7 linked regions of the Homo sapiens genome follow. The protein of the gene in region 1 purifies or fractionates together with the protein of each later gene. This does not show direct contact. Each region holds a gene or a part of one and is shown in the gene's direction. Other genes may lie near its edges. The genes, in order: RBBP7, ING2, SAP130, SUDS3, ARID4B, BRMS1L and ASF1B.

The links.
Region 2: the proteins of RBBP7 (region 1) and ING2 purify together in Homo sapiens (affinity purification with mass spectrometry; 5 studies listed by BioGRID and IntAct, with this or other methods). This does not show direct contact.
Region 3: the proteins of RBBP7 (region 1) and SAP130 purify together in Homo sapiens (affinity purification with mass spectrometry; 5 studies listed by BioGRID and IntAct, with this or other methods). This does not show direct contact.
Region 4: the proteins of RBBP7 (region 1) and SUDS3 purify together in Homo sapiens (affinity purification with mass spectrometry; 5 studies listed by BioGRID and IntAct, with this or other methods). This does not show direct contact.
Region 5: the proteins of RBBP7 (region 1) and ARID4B purify together in Homo sapiens (affinity purification with mass spectrometry; 5 studies listed by BioGRID and IntAct, with this or other methods). This does not show direct contact.
Region 6: the proteins of RBBP7 (region 1) and BRMS1L purify together in Homo sapiens (affinity purification with mass spectrometry; 6 studies listed by BioGRID and IntAct, with this or other methods). This does not show direct contact.
Region 7: the proteins of RBBP7 (region 1) and ASF1B purify together in Homo sapiens (affinity purification with mass spectrometry; 5 studies listed by BioGRID and IntAct, with this or other methods). This does not show direct contact.

What each region holds. Positions count from the first base shown.
Region 1 is NC_000023.11:16,856,863-16,860,362, reverse strand, and holds part of RBBP7 (histone-binding protein RBBP7), read left to right. Parts: intron 1-1,513; coding exon 1,514-1,687; intron 1,688-2,653; coding exon 2,654-2,769; intron 2,770-3,500. UniProt on the Homo sapiens protein: Core histone-binding subunit that may target chromatin remodeling factors, histone acetyltransferases and histone deacetylases to their histone substrates in a manner that is regulated by nucleosomal DNA.
Region 2 is NC_000004.12:183,510,494-183,512,929, forward strand, and holds the end of ING2 (inhibitor of growth protein 2), read left to right. Parts: coding exon 1-459; 3' UTR 460-1,936; downstream 1,937-2,436. UniProt on the Homo sapiens protein: Seems to be involved in p53/TP53 activation and p53/TP53-dependent apoptotic pathways, probably by enhancing acetylation of p53/TP53. Component of a mSin3A-like corepressor complex, which is probably involved in deacetylation of nucleosomal histones.
Region 3 is NC_000002.12:128,011,060-128,014,559, reverse strand, and holds part of SAP130 (histone deacetylase complex subunit SAP130), read left to right. Parts: intron 1-1,405; coding exon 1,406-1,530; intron 1,531-3,500. UniProt on the Homo sapiens protein: Acts as a transcriptional repressor. May function in the assembly and/or enzymatic activity of the mSin3A corepressor complex or in mediating interactions between the complex and other regulatory complexes.
Region 4 is NC_000012.12:118,379,555-118,383,054, forward strand, and holds part of SUDS3 (sin3 histone deacetylase corepressor complex component SDS3), read left to right. Parts: intron 1-607; coding exon 608-677; intron 678-1,415; exon of another isoform or gene 1,416-2,134; coding exon of another isoform or gene 2,135-2,280; intron 2,281-2,305; exon of another isoform or gene 2,306-3,500.
Region 5 is NC_000001.11:235,321,680-235,325,179, reverse strand, and holds part of ARID4B (AT-rich interactive domain-containing protein 4B), read left to right. Parts: intron 1-3,500. UniProt on the Homo sapiens protein: Acts as a transcriptional repressor. May function in the assembly and/or enzymatic activity of the Sin3A corepressor complex or in mediating interactions between the complex and other regulatory complexes.
Region 6 is NC_000014.9:35,857,338-35,860,837, forward strand, and holds part of BRMS1L (breast cancer metastasis-suppressor 1-like protein), read left to right. Parts: intron 1-3,500. UniProt on the Homo sapiens protein: Involved in the histone deacetylase (HDAC1)-dependent transcriptional repression activity. When overexpressed in lung cancer cell line that lacks p53/TP53 expression, inhibits cell growth.
Region 7 is NC_000019.10:14,123,090-14,126,589, reverse strand, and holds part of ASF1B (histone chaperone ASF1B), read left to right. Parts: intron 1-352; coding exon 353-468; intron 469-3,500. UniProt on the Homo sapiens protein: Histone chaperone that facilitates histone deposition and histone exchange and removal during nucleosome assembly and disassembly. Cooperates with chromatin assembly factor 1 (CAF-1) to promote replication-dependent chromatin assembly.

The sequences.
Region 1 (3,500 bases):
GACTTTTCAAAATTTTAAGTTTGAGAAAACAAAACTCTGTGTTCAAAGTAAATCCTACTTGGAAGCCCCGCCCCCCCCCCTTTTTTTTTTAAAGGAGAGCTCTTCAGGTTGTTTTAGCTAAAGGAATCAGGAAACTTGAGTATCTTTGTAGCAGAAGGGTTAGAGCCACTGGAGTCCATGGAATGGGATGTTGAAGGTCAAAGTGGAGCAGATTTGGAGCAGTCTCAGGAGGGAGGAGACGATTGGATCAGGAGGGGTCTTAGCATGCCGAGGCACATTTCTTCCATTGACACCATGGAACAGAAGGTGCTACGAGGAAAAAGGATCCTTTTGCATGTGGTCACATGAGAGTAGTGGGTAGAGGAGCTTTGGAGTAATCGTGGATTTGAGATACGGTTTTTTCAACCACACTGAAATAGTAAGCTATGTTTGCTTCAGAGAGGAACGGCTAGATACTGATATTAAGACATGGAAGCGAGTGTTCATTAAGCATTCCACATAGAAGGAGCTGCCTGGAACTGAGAAATGGTTTGCTCCTTTTGGTGGTTGCTCCAGGCCCCGGTCTATTTTACTTCTTACCTGTCTGGCTCCAGTAGGCATTTGTGTTAGTTGTCCCTGACCTGAGACACAGGGTGAGCTAAAATGGAATGTGCAAAGAAAAGGCAATATAGGTCAGGAAGAATAACACAATTGTAATGTGAACCCTCCTATCTTTTTAAGCGTCAGCAACTAATTCAGGTTTTTTTATCTATGAGCACAAAAAAGAATGTTCTTGTTTGCTGTATTTGCTTAGATGTTCTCTACTTGTATTCTTTCTGCTAACATGTTGCTACTTCTTGGAAGTTACCGTACTTTTTATATGACTTTGTTACTTTACAAGGCCTTTTTCATGATTATTTAATACTATAGTCTTATTCACACACCAGATGGGCGGAGAGGTTAACCTTGGCACTGCACTAGCAGTTAAACCAAGTATGCTGGCAGGGCCAATGTATGTGTGTTTAGGGACAGGTAGGGGTTAGCGTGGGTTTCTGATTGATTTGAGGATGCTTCTGACTTCAGACTCAAAGGGTGTTCATACTGTGGAGGGTTAAAACCTTTCCTGTTTTGATGAATCCTAAAATAAGATGCTAATTCAGTGCAGTACTTACAGTGAGTTGTATTTGAACTAAAAAGCTATTGGTCTGCTTATTATATGGTTACTTGAAATTTCAGTGAATAACTATATCATCTTCATAACTGAAAGAGGACAGTTGTTTTAGATCCAAGGTGGAACTGAATTAAGTTGCATAAGGCAGCTACCAATATTTTCCAGTGCAAATGGGCTTTAAGAATAAATTGATGTGGCAAATGAACCCACATTTTTGGGTTTTCTCTATGCATGTTTCTGTCTTTGTCTTGTCAGTTTGTGTTGTATTCTGCCAGGTCAAAATCTGTTAGGTTGATTGAACTAAGTGATTTGTGAATTTTAATCCTGAGTGTGTGTGTGTGTGTTTCTTTCTCCTCACATTAGAATTTGGTGGCTTTGGTTCTGTAACAGGAAAAATTGAATGTGAAATTAAAATCAATCACGAAGGAGAAGTAAACCGTGCTCGTTACATGCCGCAGAATCCTCACATCATTGCTACAAAAACACCATCTTCTGATGTGTTGGTTTTTGACTATACAAAACACCCTGCTAAACCAGGTATGTAATAATAGAGTTAGGTCATTACTTGAGCAGTTTTCTTGATTCAAACTGGTAATGTTTTTAAGGTCAAAGTAGCATACTTTATAATATTTAAAGGTTTAAAAATTGCTTTGGGGGTCCCATAACCATCCTCAAGTTCAGGGATTTGCCAGAACTACCTAAAAGCAGCTTATACTAACAGCTAAAGTTTATTACAGCAAAGAATCCAGAGCAAGAGTAGGAAGAAAAAGATACACATCAGGGGAAGTCCAGAGGGGTTAGCTACAGGCGTCTGAGTCCTTCCCATCCAGGGCCACGTGGGACATGTTTTGTCTCTAGCAGCAAACCATAGGAACATGTGCTAAATGTCTCTACCCAGGGCAGCCCATTTGAGTTTCAGAATCTGGGATTTTTGTGGAGGTCTGTTGGCGTGGGCACATCCTGTTCTATGACCAGCCATGGTAACAAAATTGAGGACCCCAATAGTGAAGCCAAATACATTGTGAATCTTGCTAAACAATCCTACAAGTCTTGACAGGTCCCTATGGCATACCCCACTGCTCTGGGCTTACAAAACTTTATCAGTCAGTGACGTGAAGAACTTTCTGAGGGTCACATTCCCAGGGGTTGGCCAAGGGTCATTTATGGTTGCAGGCTACCCTAGAGGCATGCAAGGACTGAGCAACCAGACCTGTTGTGTTAGAAATATTTCTAAAAAATTGGGGGGTTGCGGGGATACGGTCACCACTGCCCAAATTTGTAGGATAGCTATAGTTTTTAATATTTTTGTGTTGGGGATAGTATTAGGTTTTCCAAAGAAACCAATCATCTAATGGTCATGAGGCTCAATTTGCATTGGGTATTAAAGACCAGATCTCGTTCGTGTGCAGTTGCTGTAATGGTTCACTCAATGAAGGAGTGAGAATTTATTCTCACCAGTTCTGATAAACAGAGAATAACTTAATGTTTTTCATCTTTTCTTAGACCCAAGTGGAGAATGTAATCCTGATCTCAGATTAAGAGGTCACCAGAAGGAAGGCTATGGTCTCTCCTGGAATTCAAATTTGAGTGGACATCTCCTAAGTGCATCTGATGACCATGTGAGAAACGTATTCTTTGTAATTTGTTCATATAGTGAGAGCTGACGTGTCACAGCTGTGCTGAAGGAGTACTATATAGATGAAAGGTTTTCTAAGATAATACTGCTGATTATTGTGGTAACATTCCCCCAGGACTTTAGAGAGATGGTTTTCATACTGCCCTGTATGAGTCTTCGGATTCCACAGAGCTCTTTTGAAGTAGCCTTAGAATGGAGGGAGCATAGGCAAAAGGCCTCCCATTATTTAAAAGAGGACCCTCCAGGCCCTTAAAATGGAAACTGTAGAGTGTTTGTGGGACCTGATTAATATAAAGTATTTTTTAAGTGTACAGTTCAGTGGGTTTTAGTATATTCACAAAGGTGCACAACTATTGCCACTAATTCTAGAATGTTTTCATTCGCTCTCTGAAAGAGAAATTCCATACCCATTAAGCAGTGACTCCCCACTCATTCCCTGCCTTCCCCCAGCTCCTGGTAAGCACTAATTTATTTTCTGTCTCTATAGAGTTATCTGTTCTTGGTATTTCATGTAAATGGAATCTCATATATGGCCTTTTCTGTTTGGCTTCTTTCACTTAGCATAATGTTTTCAAGTAACATTACTTATGTTCCATTCCTTTTTATGGATGAACAATATTCCACTGTATGGATATACCACAGTTAGCTTATTTGTCAGTTGATGAACCATTTGAGTTCTTTCTACTTTGGGGCTATTTTGAATTATGTTACAAG
Region 2 (2,436 bases), on another chromosome or scaffold:
GCTGAAAGTGAACGAGCCTCAGATAAAGCAAAGATGGATTCCAGCCAACCAGAAAGATCTTCAAGAAGACCCCGCAGGCAGCGGACCAGTGAAAGCCGTGATTTATGTCACATGGCAAATGGGATTGAAGACTGTGATGATCAGCCACCTAAAGAAAAGAAATCCAAGTCAGCAAAGAAAAAGAAACGCTCCAAGGCCAAGCAGGAAAGGGAAGCTTCACCTGTTGAGTTTGCAATAGATCCTAATGAACCTACATACTGCTTATGCAACCAAGTGTCTTATGGGGAGATGATAGGATGTGACAATGAACAGTGTCCAATTGAATGGTTTCACTTTTCATGTGTTTCACTTACCTATAAACCAAAGGGGAAATGGTATTGCCCAAAGTGCAGGGGAGATAATGAGAAAACAATGGACAAAAGTACTGAAAAGACAAAAAAGGATAGAAGATCGAGGTAGTAAAGGCCATCCACATTTTAAAGGGTTATTTGTCTTTTATATAATTCGTTTGCTTTCAGAAAATGTTTTAGGGTAAATGCATAAGACTATGCAATAATTTTTAATCATTAGTATTAATGGTGTATTAAAAGTTGTTGTACTTTGTCTGTGACCTTAATTTTCTGCACTGAGTTACCAAATATTTCCAACCAGGTAGTCTTCAGATCACCTGATGAAAGGAGCAGGGAACAGGAAGAGGGTGGTGTAAACATTATAAAAATTTCACAAACCATGCCTATTTCATTTTCACTTAAAACTGCAATGTTATTTTTTGGGTAAACACAAAAGTTTCACTAGCATTTTAGTTATACATGCTTAAAAAAATGTTAGATGTAGTGGGATTTCTCTTAAGCATCAAATGATCTTGGGTACTTTAAAATACAGACACTATGCCATTTGAGCTGCTTTTTCCCTAGTCCTATTTATACGTTGGCTTGTTCATCTCTAGTCTTCTAGGAGTTTAAGGAACTGGAGATAAGAGTAATTTGGGATTCCATGTGGAATAATGTGCTCTTATGAGAGTACGTGCTGCTGTCTTTTGCTTAGTAGCATTTTGATCCACTGTCAGTAGCCCATTTGTCAATGCCTTGCTGCTGCTTTGTAGATATACTTAGTCTAGTGCTTAATAAGGGAGTTGTTTTGTGTTTTCTTTTAATTGGGACAGGTAAGAGTAGTTAGCATACCAAAAATATACATTGGCTTACATTGGCAAACTTTGGGTTATATAGTATCACGGCTCAAGGTTGAACAATTTAAAAATACATCTTAATTAATAGTATTTTCCATGTGACCTGCTGCCAGGATGCGTAGCCACAGGCCTATCAGTGGAAAGGGGCATATAGTAGTCTTTAAATATTGCCTTTATGTCAGAGAGTTGTTTTAAATGGTTTTGCTAGTGGTTATTGTTCATTTCTGTCCCAATCAGTGACTATTTTAAATAATAGTGTATTTACTGTCTTAACTTCTAGTATTGGTGCTGTTTGATGTTTTCACATTTAATTAACTTATTTCATCATCATAATGCAATTAATGTATTTGTAAATTGAATTTTCCAAGATTCTGATATTTGAAGGGTAAGCATCTTGATGGATATATGTCCATATGTTTAGAGAAGGTTTTGGTTTTGGGGGCAGCAGATTGACTAGTTCTTTAAATCTGTGTGTAACGTATGTTTTATTCCTCATTTCTTCCTAATCTGATGATCTTGATTCTTTTTGATTAACATGAAAAATCCTGTCTGCTTGTTTTGGGAAAAAAAAATGCTTTTTTTCTCTTCTAGCTCTCCTGTGTGACTTTTAGGCATGTCATTTCACCTTGTCTGGGTGTCAGGTCATTCACCTGTAAAATGAGTTGGCTTAAATATCTCCGAGATTCCTTGGAAATTTCTACTATTTGCACTATAGTGAGGATTTTAATAATGACATGACTTCTCTTTTCATTAATTTTGTCCTTCATTCTGAGGTATAAAGATAGTTTAAAGGTGAGTTTGGAGATGGGTAAATGTGCAATATTTGTTAGCTTCTGTCCTAAGAATATTTGGATTCATGACTAGAGCTAGTTGATTCTATTACCTTTTGAGTGAGAAATGTTAGACAGCATGATTAAGAATTTAGCAAATCCTTTCTCATCACCATAACTTAGCTGAGTTGTAAGGAAATCCTTTTGAGAATATGGCATTTTGTTTTAGTGATTACAACCTTGTTACCAGAATGGAGCTTTTTACTTGACACCATTAAAAATATCAGTATGGACAAAACCCCCAAAGCCTTCAGATGCGACTTACATAGAAGTCACCACTTTTTCATACGTAAATCTGCCTTGGCAGATGGGAGAAAAGAAACGACTTCCTAATAGAAATGCCAAAGTTTGGATTAGACTTGACGGGAAAACGAACCTGGAAAATCCTGGAAGGTGTGCTCTCTTTAAGACCTAATATCT
Region 3 (3,500 bases), on another chromosome or scaffold:
TTTGAGACCAGCCTGGGCAACATGGCGAAACCCTGTCTCTACAAAAATACAAAAAATTAGCCAGGTGTGGTGGCATGCGTCTGTAGTCCCATCTACTCAGGAGGCTGAGATGGGAGGATGGCACTCAGGAGGCTGAGATGGGAGGATGGCACTCAGGAGGCTGAGATAGGAGGATGGCACTCAGGAGGCTGAGATGGGAGGATGGCACTCAGGAGGCTGAGATGGGAGGATGGCTTGAGCTCGGGAGGCAGAGGTTGAAATGAGTTGAGATTGCGCCGCTGCACTCCAGCCTGGGTGACAGAGCGAGAACCTGTCTCAAGAAAAAGAAAAAAAATCGCAAGACAGTAGAAATAAACTTAGAGCAATCCATGTTTTTAGCATGGTTTAATATGTGCTTATTATAGTTGTATTACAAGTGTGTATATTTATGCAATTAAAGTGTTTAATATGGTCTAAAATTGTCCTATATATTGAGGAACTGCCCAAGCTTTGATAATCTCAACATGGTCTTTATTATTAGACTGCTTATCTGCAACATGGTCTTTATTTTTAATACATAAGTCACAAATATTAATACTGAATATTTTTAAAGTTCAGTGATGATCTTTACTCAGTTTTTTAACTTATGTAACAATAAAATGATGATGATAATTATTTTTTGAGATGGGGCCTCACTGGGTTACCCAGGCTGGTTTCAGATTTCTGGGGCACAAGCGATCTTCCCACTTTAGCCTCCTGAGTGGCTGGGACTACAGGTGTGAGCCACCACATGGCTAAGATTAATTTATTTTTACCCTTAAGTTCTAATAGGTTGTGAGGTAATAAATGAATTTTGACTAGAAATTTTTACCTTTTATTGGAGACTTTACAACAATTGGAGATTGTTGGCAAAATCAAGTTAGCAAACGCAAGACCAGGTTTGCTTGGTTATAGCATAACTCAGCAGTTCTCCAAATGTGGTTCACAGGCCCTTATGGGGGTCTGCAGGGTGAAAAGTGCAGGGTTAGGTTTAAGGTTAAGGTTCATAATGTGTCCCTTTGGCAATGTCGACGTCTGCTCTAATGGAACAAAGACTGGAAGGCAAAGTGTCCGAGCCTCGTCAGAGCTGAGGCAGTGGCATCACACTGCTGTTCCCTGTGTGCTTTACCACTGTGCACACTTGCAGTTAACAGAAACAAAAAACAGCAGCTAGTTTCACTTAAGGTTGTCTGTGAAGAGGCAATATAAATTATTATTAAATCTCTTGAATACACATTTTCTTTGTTTTCTCTGTGATGAAATGGGAAGTATACATACCATACTTCAGCTCGATATTGACATGCTATCTGAGTTTTGGGAAACATACTGATTATTTTCCCAGGGAATATAACTAGAATAAATATAATAAACACTTTTTTTTTTTCAGGTGCAGCTGCTGCTGCTGTGATGTCCAGTTCTAAAGTAACCACAGTCCTGAGGCCGACCTCACAGCTGCCAAATGCTGCTACTGCTCAGCCAGCAGTACAGCACATCATTCACCAACCAATCCAGGCACGTCGGAGCCTGGGGTGCATTAAGGGCCTCATTGGAGTTATTCATTCTGCCAGGCACTAGGCACATCCTTGACCTCAGGGACTTTCCATCTAGTTGCCAAGACATAGGGAAGTTTGAAAGATGCACAGTGTCATGTGGCAAGCTGTAAGAATGCAGAGGAGAGATGGTGGGAAGCCTTCCTGTTGGAAAGGCTGTGCTAACGAGGAATCAGAGAAGTGAAGAGGAAGTGAAGGGGGAAATGAACAGTGGCAAGGAAGGGAGTGATGGTTGTAGACAGCAGTTAGTAAAGGCTAGCTAGGATTGAGGGATTTTAATTTGGATTGGGGGGATCTGTGGACTCCTAAAAGTTAGGTGTATATCTATGTATATTCCAAGAACATGGTCCATGCCATTCAGCTTTTTCTTAAGGAAATCTATGACCTCATTATTACTGAAGTATAATATATTTGCAGGAAATATAGTATCTATAAATTGGGTTCTCTAGGATATGGAGTATAAACTAGACTTTATATACAGTAGAGAGCCACTGCGTTTTTTTGTTTATTTGTTTTTGTTTTTTGAGACAGTCTCACTCTGTTGCCCAGGCTGAAGTGCAGTGGTGCGATCCCAGCTCACTGCAACCTCTGCTTCCTGGGTTCAAGCGATTCTCCTGCCTCAGCCTTCCAAGTACTTGGGACTACAGGTGTGCACCACCATGCCCGGCTAATTTTTATACTTTTAGTAGAGACAGGATTTCACCCTGTTGGCCAGGCTGGTCTCGAACTCCTGACCTCAAGTGATCTGCCTGCCTCGGCCTCCTGAAGTGCTAGGATTACAGGCGTGAGCTACTGTGCCCGGCCAAAAATCATTTTTGTCTTTTTAACACAATGGCTCTGTGTATCATTAAAGTAATACTGTTGAAAGATGAGATTAGGCCAGGCGCAGTGGCTCACACCTGTAATTCCCAGCATTTTGGGAGGCCAAGGCGGGCGGATTGTCTGAGATCAGGAGTTTGAAACCGCCTTGGGCAACATGGTGAAACCCTGTCTCTACTAAAATGCCAAAAAATTAGCTGGGCATGGTGGTGCGTGCCTGTAATCCCAGCTACCTGGGAGGCTGAGGTGGGAGAATCACTTGAGTCCGAGAGGCAGAGGTTGCAGTGAGCCAAGATCGTGCCACTGCACTCTAGCTGGGACGAGAGAGTGAGACTCCATCTCACAAAAAATAAGAAAGATAAGATTAATCTAGCTGAATCACATACAGGAGGTCTGTCCCCTTAAGCACTTTCAGGGGACAGACAGATGTATGAAACAACTGGGTTTAAGATAATAAGGAAGTCTTGATTATGATACTGGGTAGTATCTGTCTAGCCTACAGCTTTCAAGATAAATACTTTTCTGGCCAAGAAAACAGAGTCGGAGGAGTATTAGGCCTCTAGTAGTATATGTGATACATATGAAGGGTTGGAGGAAGACGAGAACCAAGACAAGGAGCTCCCGAGTGAGGAAGCTGGTGCTGTAGCCCTAGTGTGAGACACGCACCTGCACATGGTAGAAGCGGCAGGTAAAAGGGCTGTAGATGAAAAGCAAGGATGAGGAATGGGCAGAGCTCGGCCATTTAGATGCATGTTTCAGGGTTAAGAGCAAGGGAAGAATCAGAACTCAGGTGATTCGAAGAATAATGGTGGGTATGTGGATGAAGCCCAGTGTGGAGCTTATTTTTTAGAGGAAGATTTCACACGTAAGTGTGATAAGGGCACTCTGTCCATGTGAAAACATCCAGAAAGGATATGGGCACCCTGAACGATTACCTAGAAAAGAATACTGTTACCTTGAGTTGCCCTTGTACTCACTAACGTAGATGGCCTGAGAGCCAACAGCTCTATTCAGCAGCTGAGTAGGCCCTCTGTGGAGGTGCTGGGTTGGATGGCAGCGTAAAATGTCTACACCAGGACCAACAACAGACCTGTGGCAACTCTAGATTGAAGG
Region 4 (3,500 bases), on another chromosome or scaffold:
CCCCACGGATACTGAGGGACAACCGTGTATCCTGATGTAAAATGTGCGAAGGGTTCCAACTGGGTATGTATCAGAAGAGAATGTACATACTAGTTTTTTTCTGGAGCAGCGAGTAAGGCTTGACTGCCTGCAGTGTCCAGTCTTACGCCTGCATCTCCTTTCTTGAGTTGCCAGCATTGTTGTTTCTGCAGAAGTAGCAGCCTTCACCATAACTGCCTGTGCCTGAGACACCCTATTCTGTGGCTGCATTTCAGGTAAAGGCAAGCTTTTTGCATAAATCTGACTGTAAGTTGGAAATGGCCTTTTCTTTTCTGAAGTACGGCTGTCCCTCGGTATCTATGGGGGACTGGTTCCAGGACTTCATGGATACTACAACCTGAGGATACTCAAATTCTTTGCATTGGCCTTTTGTGTCCACAGGTTTCGTGTTTGCAGATAGGGATGGCCTACTAACTGTATGTAATGTTTTTCATTGATGGCTTTGTGCAAGCCTGCCTTGAATAGAAATTGATTTTACGGGAGTTTATTGAGTGCATACTCTGTGTCAGGTGACGCCAACTCCGTGAATTATGATTTTAACTAGCCCCTATTTCCTAACTTTATTCAGACACTGAGGATGCTAGTGAAACTGACCTGGCAAAGCATGATGAAGAAGACTATGTAGAAATGAAGGAACAGTGAGTATGATATGCCTATGTCTTTTTGGAACATAGAATTGACAACATCTTTATATAGATTGAGCATCCCAAATCTGAAATCTCAGATGCTCCAAAATCTAAAACTTCCTGAGTGCCAGCATGATGCTCAAAGGAAATGCTCATTGCACTATTTCAGATTTCAGATTTTTGGATGTGGGATGCTCAGCTGGTAAGTATATTGCAAATAATCTAAAATTTGAAAAAATCCAAAACACTTCTGATCCCAAGCATTTCAGATAAGGGATACTTAATCTGTAGTAACCTTGTGTGTATGAGTTTGACCATAGCGCTTCCAAAGACCATGTATGTTTACAATTTCTCCACTTTAAATTAATTACATTTAATCAGTCTTCCCGTTATAAGACTTTGTTGAGTACTCTCTAGAAAGAATCTTGAGGGCAATGGACCCAGGGGAGGGAATGAGGCCGTACAACAGGAGAGGACCTTTTACTACTTACTCTTTTTTTTCCTTGAGACAGAGCCTTGCTCTTTCGTCCAGACTGGAGTGCAGTGGCAGGATCTCCTCACTGCAACCACCGCCTTCCGGATTCAAATGATTCTCCTGCCTCAGCCTCCTGAGTAGCTGGGATTACAGGTGCACGCCACCACGCTCAGCTAATTTTTGTATTTTTAGTAGAGACAGGGTTTCACCATGTTGGCCAGGCTGGTCTCGAACTCCTGAGCTCGTGATCCGCCCACCTTGGCCTTCCAAAGTGCTGGGATTACAGGCGCGAGCCACTGCGCCCGGACCTTTTTTTTTCTTTTCTTTTTTAATGGGCAAACCAATGCACAGAGAGGGTAATTGTTGTCTTGAAGCAATTGGGTTCTCAGGTGAGTGTAAACTCACTGCACTAATGTGCTAGACAAGGTGCCGGAGGCCTGGAGAGCTCAGAGAAGCCACGATTGAAAAGCAGGCTGCTGACTCTTATTTATTTATTTATTTATTTTTATTTGTTTAATTTTTTTTTTTGAGATGGAGTCTTGCTCGGTTGCCCAGGCTGGAGTGCAGTGGTGCAATCTTGGCTCACCACAACCTCCACCTCCCAGGTTCAAGTGATTCTCCTGCCTCAGCCTCCCAAGTAGCTGGGATTATAGACATGCACCACCATGCCCGGCTAATTTTTGTATTTATTTATTTTTTTTGTGTGGAGATGGAGTGTCGCTTTGTTGCCCAGGCTGGAGTGCAGTGGCCTGATCTCGGCTCACTGCAACCTCTGCCTCCTGGGCTCAAGCAATTCTCCTGCCTCAGCCTCCCGAGTAGCAAGGACTACAGGCACATGCCACCATGCCCGGCTAATAATTTTCGTATTTTTAATAGAGACGGGGTTTCTCCATGTTGGCCAGGCTGGTGTCAAAACTCTTGACCTCAGGTGATCCACCTGCTTTGGTCTCCCAAAGTGCTGGGATTACAGGCGTGAGCGACCCTGCCTGGCCACATGCTGACTCTCAGGCCAGTGCTCTGTCCACGTTTGCACCTGCTCTCACCCAAACCTTCTCATTGTCTTCAGACAGAGCCACAGCCGAACAGATTCAGAGAAACGAAAACCTCACTCACTTTTAGCGTACACCCAGATGGAAAACGGTATAAAGTATATTTAATGTATATTTGTTGAATGTGTTAGGTTTTTAAAGTTCTTTACCTTTTAACAGGATGATCCACATTCATTTCCCTTTAGGTCCTTTTTGCAAATGTTTTGTGGCCATCCTCTGGATTCTCACATTGTTTTTGTGCTTTGGAACTCAAAGGGGTAATTCAGCTAGGTCTAACCAGTGCTGAATAAAGATGGATTACTTTTTTTTTTTTTGAAACAGAGTCTCACTCTGTCACCCAGGCTGGAGTGCAATGGCATGATCTCGTCTCACTGCAACCTCCACCTCCTGAGTTCGAGTGATTGTCATGGCTAAGCCTCCTGAGTAGCTGGGACTACAGGCATGCGCCACTACGCCTGGCTGATTTTTTTGTTGTTGTATTTTTAGTAGAGACGGGGTTTCACCATGTTGGCCAGGCTGGTCTTGAACTCCTGACCTCAGATGATCTGCTTGCTTCAGCCTCCCATCGTGTTGAGATTACAGGCCTGAGCCATCGTGCCAGGCCACTTTTTTTTGAGACAGTAGCCACTTTTTTTTGAGACAGTATCTTGTTTTGTTGCCTGGGCTGGAGTGCAGTGGCATGATAGCAGCTCACTGCAGTCTCAACCTCTGGGGCTCAATCCATTGATCCTCCCACCTCAGCCTTCCAAGTAGCTGGGACAACAGGCACGTGCCACCACGCCCAGCTGATTTTTAAAATTTTTAGTAGAAACTAGGTCTCACTGTGTTGCCCAGGCTGGTCTTGAATGCCTGAGCTCAAGCATTCCTCCTGTTTCGGCCTCCTGGAGTGCTAGGATTACAAGAATAAGCCAATGTGCCCAGCCTTTTTTTTTTTTTTTTTAAGAGACAGGGTCTTGCTCTGTCGCCCAGGCTGGAGTGCAGTGGCATGATCTCGGCTCACTGCAACCTCCAGCCCCTGGGTTCAAGCTATTCTTCTGCCTCAGCCTCACGAGTAGCTGGGATTACAGGCGCCCACCACCACGTCTGGCTAATTTTTTTTTTTTAAGTAGAGACAGGGTTTCACCATGTTGGCCAGGTTGGTCTCGAACTCCTGACCTCAAGTGATCCACCCGCCTCGGCCTCCTAAAGTGCTGGGATTACAGGCGTGAGCCACCTTGCCTGGCCTCCCTTAGTATTTGATGATACAGAAAAAATTTCGGTTAAAATGGAATGCCTTGTGTAATTCAAGGGGAAATCTAAAGTGCATCAGAA
Region 5 (3,500 bases), on another chromosome or scaffold:
TAAATTTCTAACTTCATACAAGTACTTCCTGTTATTATAAGTATAGCAAATCTCAGAGAATTTGCTAGTAATTATTAGTACTAAAAACTTAGCTTATTTCTTACAACTTTATTTCTTATGTGATAAAAGATGAGAAGCTTCTTGTAATTTGTATTTTGCTTTAGCAAAAATTGCAATTCAGAATCTATTTAATGTTGAGTGTATTAGGCCTAAATTTTGTTTCTTTTTCTGTGTGTTCCCAATTTCTTTCGTTCTTTTTTATTTTTCTTTTTGATATAGAGTCTCACTATTTCACCCTGGCTGGCACGATCTGTAACTGCTGCCTCCTGGGCTCAAATAATCCTCCCACCTCAGCCTCCTGAGTAGCTGGGACTACAGGCACACCTGGCTAATTTTTGTAGTTTTTGTAGAGATGAGGTTTTGCCGTGTTGCCCAGGCTGGTGTCGAACTTCTGGGCTCAGGTGACTCTCCCGCCTTAGCCTCCCAAAGTGCTGGGATTACAGGCGAGAGTCACCGTGCCTGGTGTAATTTCTGTATTACGATGATCATTGAGCTACAGAAGGTTTTATGCCATTTATTGGATCTTACCAAACATATTTGTACTTGGGAGCAAGCTTTTAAGTTTGAATTGTCTGTTGTATTAACGACAACAAATCTTTAAATTTTATTAAGTGACAGTTTATTGAGGTGATTGAAAGTTAGATTATGTAGTAATACTTTTTAGGTGTTGTTTTAAAGTTGAAGTGTTGTATGTTTTAGCAGTTTTCCCATGTACTACCTTTAAGAATTTATGTAAACAAATACATTCCCATTACTGTCTAATATATGCTATGTTACTTTTTTCACAGTATGTTTTTGAGGAATATGATTCGTAATACATAAGGAATTTGTGCTGTAACATAGATCGTGATGTTGGTGTTATGTTGAATTTATTTTTCATGCTCTTGATAGACTTTTAAAAATCAGTGGTGCCGGCTGGGCATGGTGGCTCACGCCTGTAATCACAGCACTTTGGGAGGCCGAGGTAGGAGGATCACCTGAGGTCAAGGGAGTTTGAGACCAGCCTGGCCAGCGTAGTAAAACCCTGTCTCTTCTAAAAATACAAAATTAGCTGGGCATGGTGGCACACACCTGTAATCCCAGCTATTCGGAAGGCTGAGGCAGGAGAACTGCTTGAACCCAGGAGGCGGAGGTTGCAGTGAGCTGAGGTTGCGCCACTGAACTCCAGCCTCGGCGAAAAAAGTGAAACTCTCTCTCTCAAAAAAAAAAAAACTAAATAAAATAAAATAAAAATCAGCAGTACCACATTATAAGGAGGTGGTAGATTATTAAAGTTTGTAAATAATTCCAAGACTTATTTTTATTATGTCAGGTTGATTTTTACTTTTTTTTTTTAAGACGGACTTTTGCTCTTGTTGCCCAGGCCGGAGTGCAGTGGTGCGATCTCGGCTCACTGCAACCTCTGCCTCCCAGGTTCAAGCAGTTCTCCTGCCTCAGCCTCCTGAGTAACTGGAATTATAGGCATGCACCATCATGCCGGGCTAATTTTGTGCTTTTAGTAGAGACAAGGTTTCTCCATATTGGTCAGGCTGGTCTCGAACTCCTGACCTCAGGTGATCTGCCCGCCTCGGCCTCCCAAAGTGCTGGGATTACAGGCGTGAGCCACTGCGCCCGGCCGATTTTTACTTTTTTTAAACTCAAACTTTTTTTTCCTGTATCTATATTGTACATGTTATTAACGTCTTTTATTACGTAGCAGTAAATTTTCAATTAAAATGGGCTGGTTGGGCTGGATATACCAGAATCTTTAGAGGAGGAATGATTTAGATGATTATACTTTGGCGGGCATGGTGGCTCATGCTTGTAATCCCAGTACTTTGGGAGGCTGAGGTGGGTGGATTACTTGAGGTTGGGAGTTCAAGACCAGCCTGGCCAAAGTGATGAAAACCCCGTCTCTACTAAAAGTATAAAAAAATTAGCTGGGCATGGTGGCGCATGCCTGTATTCCCAGCTACTCAGGAGACTGAGGTAGGATCGCTTGAACCTAGGAGGTGGAGGTTGCAGTGAGTCGAGATGGCACCACTGCACTCCAGCTTGGGTGACAGGGAGACCCCATTTCAGGAAAAAAAAAAAAAAAAAGGTGGTTATATTTAGAATCCACGTAGATTGAATTTTCCAGATGTACTTTTCTTTCTTCAACAATGATTGGCTTAGGCCACATGAAAAAATAATGGATTGATTACAAATTCCCTTTTTTAATGCCCTGTGTGTGTGTACATGTTCTCTCTCTCTCTCCCCCTACCTCTACCTTTGTTTGTCTCCCTATCCACTCTGTCAGTTCGTTCCCCCCTCTCTGTTCTTTTCCTTCCCCCTCTTCCTTCTGTCTCACCCCTTTCATAAGTCATTCATTTAACAACAACCCGTTTCATATATCAGGTAATATAGAATGAAGGTGGGTGAGGCATCTGACCTGCTTTCAGGGAGCCCACAGTGTAGCAGAAGATGCAGATAAATAAAGCAAAACTCCTAGCATATCTATTTATGAGTATTCCAACATAAAATAATTGTAGGAAATGCTATGAGAGGACAGAAGAGGACAGCTAAATCAGAGAGCTATGGAAAGTTTTCTGGTGGAGTTGACATCTAAGCTGAGTGCGAAGGCTTTTGCTAGGCAAAGAAGGGAAGAAAAGTTTTTCAGATAGAGGATAACGTACTGGAAAATGAACGAAACAAGGTGAAGTATCTGGAAACTGTAAGTAATTTGGTGTGACTGAATTAACTTAAAGCATGATATGTTTGGGTAGGAATAAAAGGGCAGTGGTGGGAGATGAAGCTGAGTGAGGGAGTCGAAAATTTTCTTGGCCAGGCATGGTGTCTCACACCTGTAATCCCAGCACTTTGGGAGGTTGAGGCAGGTGGATCACCTGAGTTCTATACCAGCCTGGCCAACATGGTGAAACCCTGTTTCTACTAAAAATACAAAATTAGCAGGGCATGGTGGTGTGAGCCTGTAATGCCAGCTATTAGGGAGGCTGAGGCAGAAGAATAGCTTGAACACGGGAGGTGGAGGTTACAGTGAGCCGAGATCATGCCATTGCACTCCAGCCTGGGTGACAAGAGCAATACTCTGTCTCAAAAAAAAAAAAATTTTTTCTTGAAAACTACATGGAACCATTGAAAGTTGTTGAGAATTGCTTGAACCCAGGAGCTGGAGGTTGCGGTGAGCTGAGATCAGGCCACTGCAAAAACAAGGGGAGAGCTGAATGTAAGGATGGAAATTCCAGGTAAGAAGTCCAAGTGGAAAATGAATAAGGGCCTGAACTAATGCATTGGAAGTGGAGCAGAGAGGATAGATCTGAGCCTTTTTGAAGTAGAATTCAGGGCCGGGCACAGTGGCTCACACCTGTAATCCCAGCACTTTGGGAGGCTGAGGTGGGTGGATCATGAGGTCAGGAGATTGAGACCATCCTGGCTAACACAGTGAAACCCCGTCTCTACTA
Region 6 (3,500 bases), on another chromosome or scaffold:
TGTATATATTTTTGAAGGCATAGCCTTATAATTTATAATGAAAAACAGCAGTCTTCTGTCCTATTTTTAAATTCTGTATCCCAGTGGCAATTATATTTCTAACTTGTGTATCAGTTGCTTCTGGAATTTACCCTCATATTCCTTTCTTAAAAAAAAATTTTTTTATAGAGATGGGGGTCTTGCTATATTGCCCAGCTGGTTTTGAACCCCTGGCCTCAAGTGATCCTCCTGTTTTGGCCTCCCAAAGTGCTGGAATTATAAGTGTGAGCCACTGCGCCTGGCCCTCATATTTCTAAATAAAGCAGTTTTAGACATTATCTATTGGTTTCCTATTATGGAAGCTGAGGATTTTTCTGTTTCATTCTTCTAATACTGTTGTGTTACAGTTTTTGTTTTAAATTATAAATATTGTTTACTGAGTCAAGAGTTACATTATGTTTAAAATTTTTCTTGTGTATTTTTTTAAACTTTGGAATTAATAATTGCTTCATTTATTGTTTGTTAGTTTTCTCTGTGTTTATCAATTCTTCCTACAGACCTTAGCAGATCTATGAGGGCCTCCTAATGCTGTTTTTTTTTTTAATTAAGCTAAACATGTACAGTTGTATTGATTTTTCATGAAGCCTGAGTATTCCACAAAATAAAGAGCATGTTACCTAATGGACTCAAGAAAAGTAAAAAAAAAAAAAAAAGCACTGGACCTCTCATAAGTTTTCAACTGTATGAAGATTTAAACTCCTGTCCAGTAAAGGTCAAAACTGCTTCTCGTTTTAAAGTTAGGTGTAAACAGTGTCTTCTGATGACTTCTAGAATGACCTAGAAAACCCCCTCATATTTGCTTCTTTCAGACACTGAAGTCCTAACGCTGTTTTCTCTGCGATCAAACTTATCAGATAATCCATCAGCCTCATTTTCTTCTGAAGGGCTCCCTCCTGGAAGCAACCCCTCTATCCCTCGTGTCCCCTATCCTCCTGCTCCATCTTTCATTTGGAGGCCAGCTGCATCTGTCTTCTTGGGGCATCTCTTTACCAGCAACCTGGATGTCCCCTTCACCTCTCCTCTGCTAGCATCTTATTTTCTCCTTAAGTTTGGTAGAGTGTATCTTTCAGTAGCATCCTGACAAAGGATTTCTAGAAGTTAGTTTTTTGAGATTTCTTGTATTGCTTGTCTATTGCTTTATAATTAATTACTCCAAAACTTAGTGGCTTAACACAACAATAAACATTTATTATTTTGCAGTCTCAGTGGCCAGGAATTTGGGAGCAACTTAGCTGGATGGTTCTGGCTCAGGGAATCCCAAGAAGTTGCAGTGAAGATATCAGCCAGGGATGCAGTCATCTCAAGGCTTGATTGGAGGCTGGAGGATCCGCTTCTAAGGTGACTCACTCGCAGGCTGGCAAGTTGTTGCTGGTTCTTGGTGAGAAGCCTTAGAGAACCCATGTGAGAACATGGGCCTCTCCACAGGCTGATTGAGTGTCCTCATAACCTGGTACCCAGGTTCTTCCAGACTTAGTGATCCAAGATAGCAAGACAGAGGTGACTGTTTTTATGGCCTAGATTTCTGCCAGATTTTGTTCACTAGAAGTCAGTTGCTATATCTTACCCATTTTTTTTTTTTTTTTGAGATGGAGCCTTGCTTAGTCACCCAGGCTGGAGTGCAGTGGTGCAATCTCGGATCACTGCAACCTCCACCTCTTGGGTTCAAGTGATTCTCCTGCCTCAGCCTGCCGAGTAGCTGGGATTACAGGTTCCTGCACCACGCCCGGCTTATTTTTTCCTTTTTTGTAGTAGAGACTGGGTTTCACCATGTTGGCCAGGCTGGTCTTGAACTTGTGACCTCAAGTGATCCGCCAGCCTCAGCCTCCCAAAGTGCTGGGAGTATAGGCGTGAGCCACCGTGCCTGGCCCATCCTACCCGTATTCAAGAAAGAGTATTAGTCTCTACCATTTGAAATTAGGAGTATCAAAGGATTATTGGACATGTTTTAAAACCACCACATCTTTCCTGTCTGAAAACATCTTGACGCTCACACTTAAGAGTATGGAATTCTAGATAGAAATCATGTTTCCTCAGAATTTTGAAGGCATTGTTCCATTATCTTCTAGCTTCCAGCGTTGCTTTTGTAAAGTCTCTTACCATTTTGATTCCTGATCCTTTGTACATGACCTGTTTTCTTCCTGAATACTTTTAGGATCTTCTCTTTATTCTTGTCTTGGTATTGTGGGATTGTGAGATGATGTGCTTTGATGTGGTCTTTTTTCGTTCATTGTGCTGGATACCCAGAGGAACTTTTGATTTTATGTATTTATTTATTTGAATTTTTTTTTAAAGAGACAGAGTCTCGCTCTATTGCCCAGGCTTGAGTACAGTGGTGCAATCATAGCTCATTGCAGCCTCCAACTCCTGGGCTCAAGTAATCCTCCTGCCTCAGTTGCCTGAGTAGCTGGGACTACAGGCCCACGCTGCCATGCTTAGCTAATTTTAAAAAATATTTTGTAGAGATGGGGTCTCACTGTGTTGCCTAAGCTGGTCTCAAACTCCTGGGCTCAAGTGATCCTCCTGCCTCCGTATCCCAAAGTGCTGGAATATAGGTGTGTGCCATTGTGCCTGACCAGATGAACTGTTTAATAAAAAAATTCGTATCTTCAGTTCTGGGAAATTTCTTATATATTGTTTCTTTAATATTTTCTTTTAGCTTTCATTTTATAAATTTAATCCTTTAGTCCATTTACTTTTATGTGTAATGTAAATTGTATAATGTAAAGCAAAAAATATTCAGGATATAGTTAAAATCATTTTTCTTTTTTTTTGAGACAGAGTCTTGCTCTGTCACCCAGGCTGTAGTGTAGTGGCATGATCTCGGCTTACTGCAACCTCCACCTTCTGGGCTCAAGCGATTCTAGTGCCTCAGCCTCCTGAGTAGCTGGGATTACAGGTGTCTACCACCATGTCTGGATAATTTTTTTGTATTTCTGGTAGAGTAGACAACGAGGTTTCACCATGTTGGCCAGGCTGGTTTTGAACTCCTGACCTCAAGTGATCCACCTGCCTCAGCCTCCCAAAGTGCTAGGATTACAGGCATGAGCCACCGTGGCTGGCCTAAACTCATTTTTCTCTTGTCATTTATTGTCAGATTCCCAGATGATTTAAAAAGTCACCTTTGTCATTTCCGCATAGCCAGAGTCTGTTTCTAAGTTTTAAAATTCTACTCTGCATTTTTTTTATTCCAGTGCAGTATGCTTAAAAAAAAAAAAAAAAAACTATTGTAGCGTTTTAATGGGTCACTCTCTGATAATAGCCTATGAAAATCTTCCAGGGCTCCAGTCCTGATAGAAGTTGAGAATTGTGAGGTATGTTAAGTCAGGGAACTGCCAAAGAGGAGTTGGTTCTGAATACAGGTCAGTGTGAGGTCGGTACAATAATGGAAGCTTGGGGCCACTTTCCTGGGGCTTTTTAAAGCTCTCCTGATGAGAAACAGCATAGGCGTCAGCCTGGGAAAG
Region 7 (3,500 bases), on another chromosome or scaffold:
TGAGACAGGAGAATCGCTTGAACCTGGGAGGCAGAGATTGCAGTGAGCCAAGATCACACCATTGTACTCCAACCTGGGTGACAAGAGTGAAACTCCATCTCAAAAAAGAAAAAAAAAATTAGCTAGGCGTGGCAGCGGGCACCTATAATCCCAGCCACTCGGGAGGCTGAGGTATGAGAATCACTGGAACCTGGGAGGCGGAAGTTGCAGTGAGCTGAGATCGCATCACTGTATTCTAACCTGTGTGACAGAACGAGACTCCATCTCAAAAAAAAAAAAAAATACAAGAGCCTATCCCTGCCTTCTTGCTGTTGAGCTATTTCAATTAGTTAACCCTCCTATATCTTTGCAGACCTGGAGTGGAAGATCATTTATGTTGGCTCGGCTGAGAGTGAGGAATTTGATCAGATCCTAGACTCGGTGCTGGTGGGCCCTGTGCCAGCAGGGAGACACATGTTTGTCTTTCAGGTAAGAAAGATGAGGCCTTAGGCCTTAGCCCTTGATTCCTAGAAACATCCTCTTTTACCTGAAATCCCACAGAGTGCTTCAGGAATCAAAAGTTCAAGTTCAGCTGGGCACGGGCTCACGCCTATAGACCCAGCTACTCCAGGGACTGAGGTGAGAGGATTGCTTGAGCCCGGGAGTCTGAGGCTGCAGTGAGCCACTGCACTCCAGCCTAGGCAACACAGTGAGACCCTGTCTCTAAAAAAGAAAAAAACAAGTATTAAAAACATAGAGGCCGGGCACAGTTGCTCACACCTGTAATCCCAGCACTTTGGGAGGCCGAGGTGGGAGGATTGCTTGAGGCCAGGAGTTTGAGACCAGCTGGGGCAATATAGTGAGACCGCATCTCTACAAAAAATGTAAAAATCAGCAGAGCATGGTGGTGTGCGCCTGTAGTCTCAGATACTTGGGAGGCTGAAATGGGAGGATCACTTGAGCCTGGGAGATGGAAGCTACAATGAGCCAAGACCACACCACTGCACTCCAGCCTGGGCAACAGTAAGACCCAGTCTCAATCAATCAATTAAAACAATTTAAAAGTTCAGGTTCAAATCCTAGTTCTACTGTCAGGAACTATCTGACCTCTCAGAGGCCGTCAGGCCCTCCCTTCCCCCACCTCTGTGTCAAAGCTGCCACTGATTTACAGGCAATTCCCATTATTTACAAGAGTTACGTTCTATAAAGTTGCCGCGAACACTGAATTAGTGAATACTGAACCATTGCCCCAGGGGAAATACAGGGTTAGATTCTTGGAAGTCACATTTTCGTCAGCTGGTTAATACGTAAACTTGTATGTGTGTTTATGTTGAAAAGACACCAGGACGGCTATGATGGCTCAAACCTGTAATCCCAGCACTTTGGGAGGCTGAGGTGGGTGGATCGCCTGAGGTCAGGAGTTCAAGACCAGCCTGGCCAATGTGATGAAACCCCGTCTCTACTAAAAATACAAAAATCAGCCAGGTGTGGTGGCGCATGCCTGTAATCCCAGCTACTCGGGAGGCTGCGGCGGGAGAATCGCTTGAACCTGGGAGATGGAGATTGCAGTGAGCTGAGATCGCACCAGTGCACTCTAGCCTGGGTGATACAGCGATACTCTGTCTCAGAAAAAAAGGAAAGATACCTTATTTAATATATACAGTGGTTCATTTATGTTGAATTCACAGCCAACAGCACTATAACTCTCCTGAATGAAACTTCTCTAATACGCATATTTTCCATAAAGCCTTTCTTGTATCCTACACTGCACTTCAGCACTACCGTTGGGTGCCATCATAGACAGCAAACTCACCAACAAAAAGCACAAAACATGGAAAAAAGCACTAAGTAGGCTGAGGAAAGGACGCTCATTCACAGTGAGAGCTGAGACCAGAAGACAGAGTGTTGCCTTGTTTGACCTCAGGTGGGAACAGGCGTGGTAGGTAACTCTAGGTGGGAACAGGCATGGTAGGTAACTCCAGTTTTTCCCTGCTCTGTGCATGTCTGCAAGTGACTGTGAAAGCAAGCAGGTGTTCATCTTGGGGTTACAAATAAACTTAGCAGGTAGGTGAACTTGCACATATGGAACCCATGAATAATGAGGATGGACTGTAACTCCTAAATGGCTCTCATGCAGCACCCCACCTGGGTTGTCAAATGTAGATTCTGGCCGGGTGTGGTGGCTTCCAGCACTTTGGGAGGCAGAGGCGGGAGGACTGCTTAAGGCCAGGAGTTCCAGACTAGCCTGGGCCACATAGCGAGACCCCCATCTCTACAAAAAATAGAAAAATTAGCCGGGTGTGGTGGCTTGCACCTGTCGTCCCAGCTACTTGGGAGGCTGAAGCAGGAGGCTTGCTTGAGCCTGAGAGTTTGAGGCTACAGCGAGCTATGATTGCACCTCTGCACTGCATTCTGGGTGACAGCGAGACCTGTCTCTACAAAAAAAACATTAACCAGGCATAGTGATGCAGGCCTGTAGTGCCAGCTACTAGGGAGGCTGAAGCAGAAGACTCACTTGAGGCCAGGTGCCATGGCTCACACCTGTAATCTCAACACTTTGGGAGGCTGGGGCAGGCAGATCACTTGGGGTCAGGAGTTAAAGACTAGCCTGGCCAACATGGTGAAACCCTGTCTCTACTAAAAAATACAAAAATTAGCTGGATGTGGTGGTGCACATTTGTTATCCTAGCTACTCGGGAGGCTGAGGCACGAGAATTATTTGAATCCAGGGGGCGGAAGTTACAGTGAGCTGAGATTGCGCCACTGCACTCGAGCCTGGGCAACAGAGTGAGACCCTGTCTCTAAAAAAAAAAAAAAAAAAAAATAGGCTCGCTTGAGCCCAGGAGTTCCAGGAGTTTACAGTGATCTGTGATTGCACCACTGCACTCCAGTCTGGATGACAGAGGGAAAAGCTATCTCTTTAAAAAAAGAAGGCCGGTGCAGTGGCTCACGCCTGTAATCCCAGCACTTTGGAAGGCCAAGGTGGGCGGATCACAAGGTCAGGAGATTGAGACCATCTTGGCTAACATGGTGAAGCCCCATCTCTACTAAAAAATACAAGAAATTAGCCAGGCCTGGTGGCGGGCACCTGTAGTCTCAGCTACTCAGGAGGCTGAGGCAGGAGAATGGCGTGAACCTGGGAGGCGGAGCTTGCAGTGAGCCGAGATCACGCCACTGCACTCCAGCCTGGGTGACAGTGAGACTCCATCTCAAAAAAAAAAAAAAAAAAAAAGAAGAAAGAAAAAACAAATGGAGATTCTGAGTTCTCCAGGTGATTTTTCAGGATCCTCTGCTCGGATACACTCCCTTACCTCCATCACTGCTGTTACCGCCCTAATCCAAGCTACCACATCCTATCTAACCCCTTCAGCCACCACTACTAAATCCACTGACAGGCCCTATCTACTCAACAGTCAGGACTGGCCTCCTGGGTGTGCAACCCAGGCAGCTGCACAGGACCCCACACTTGGTGCGATACTCTGCTGTCACCGTCTGAAACCTAATAGCTTTTCTGGAGGGGC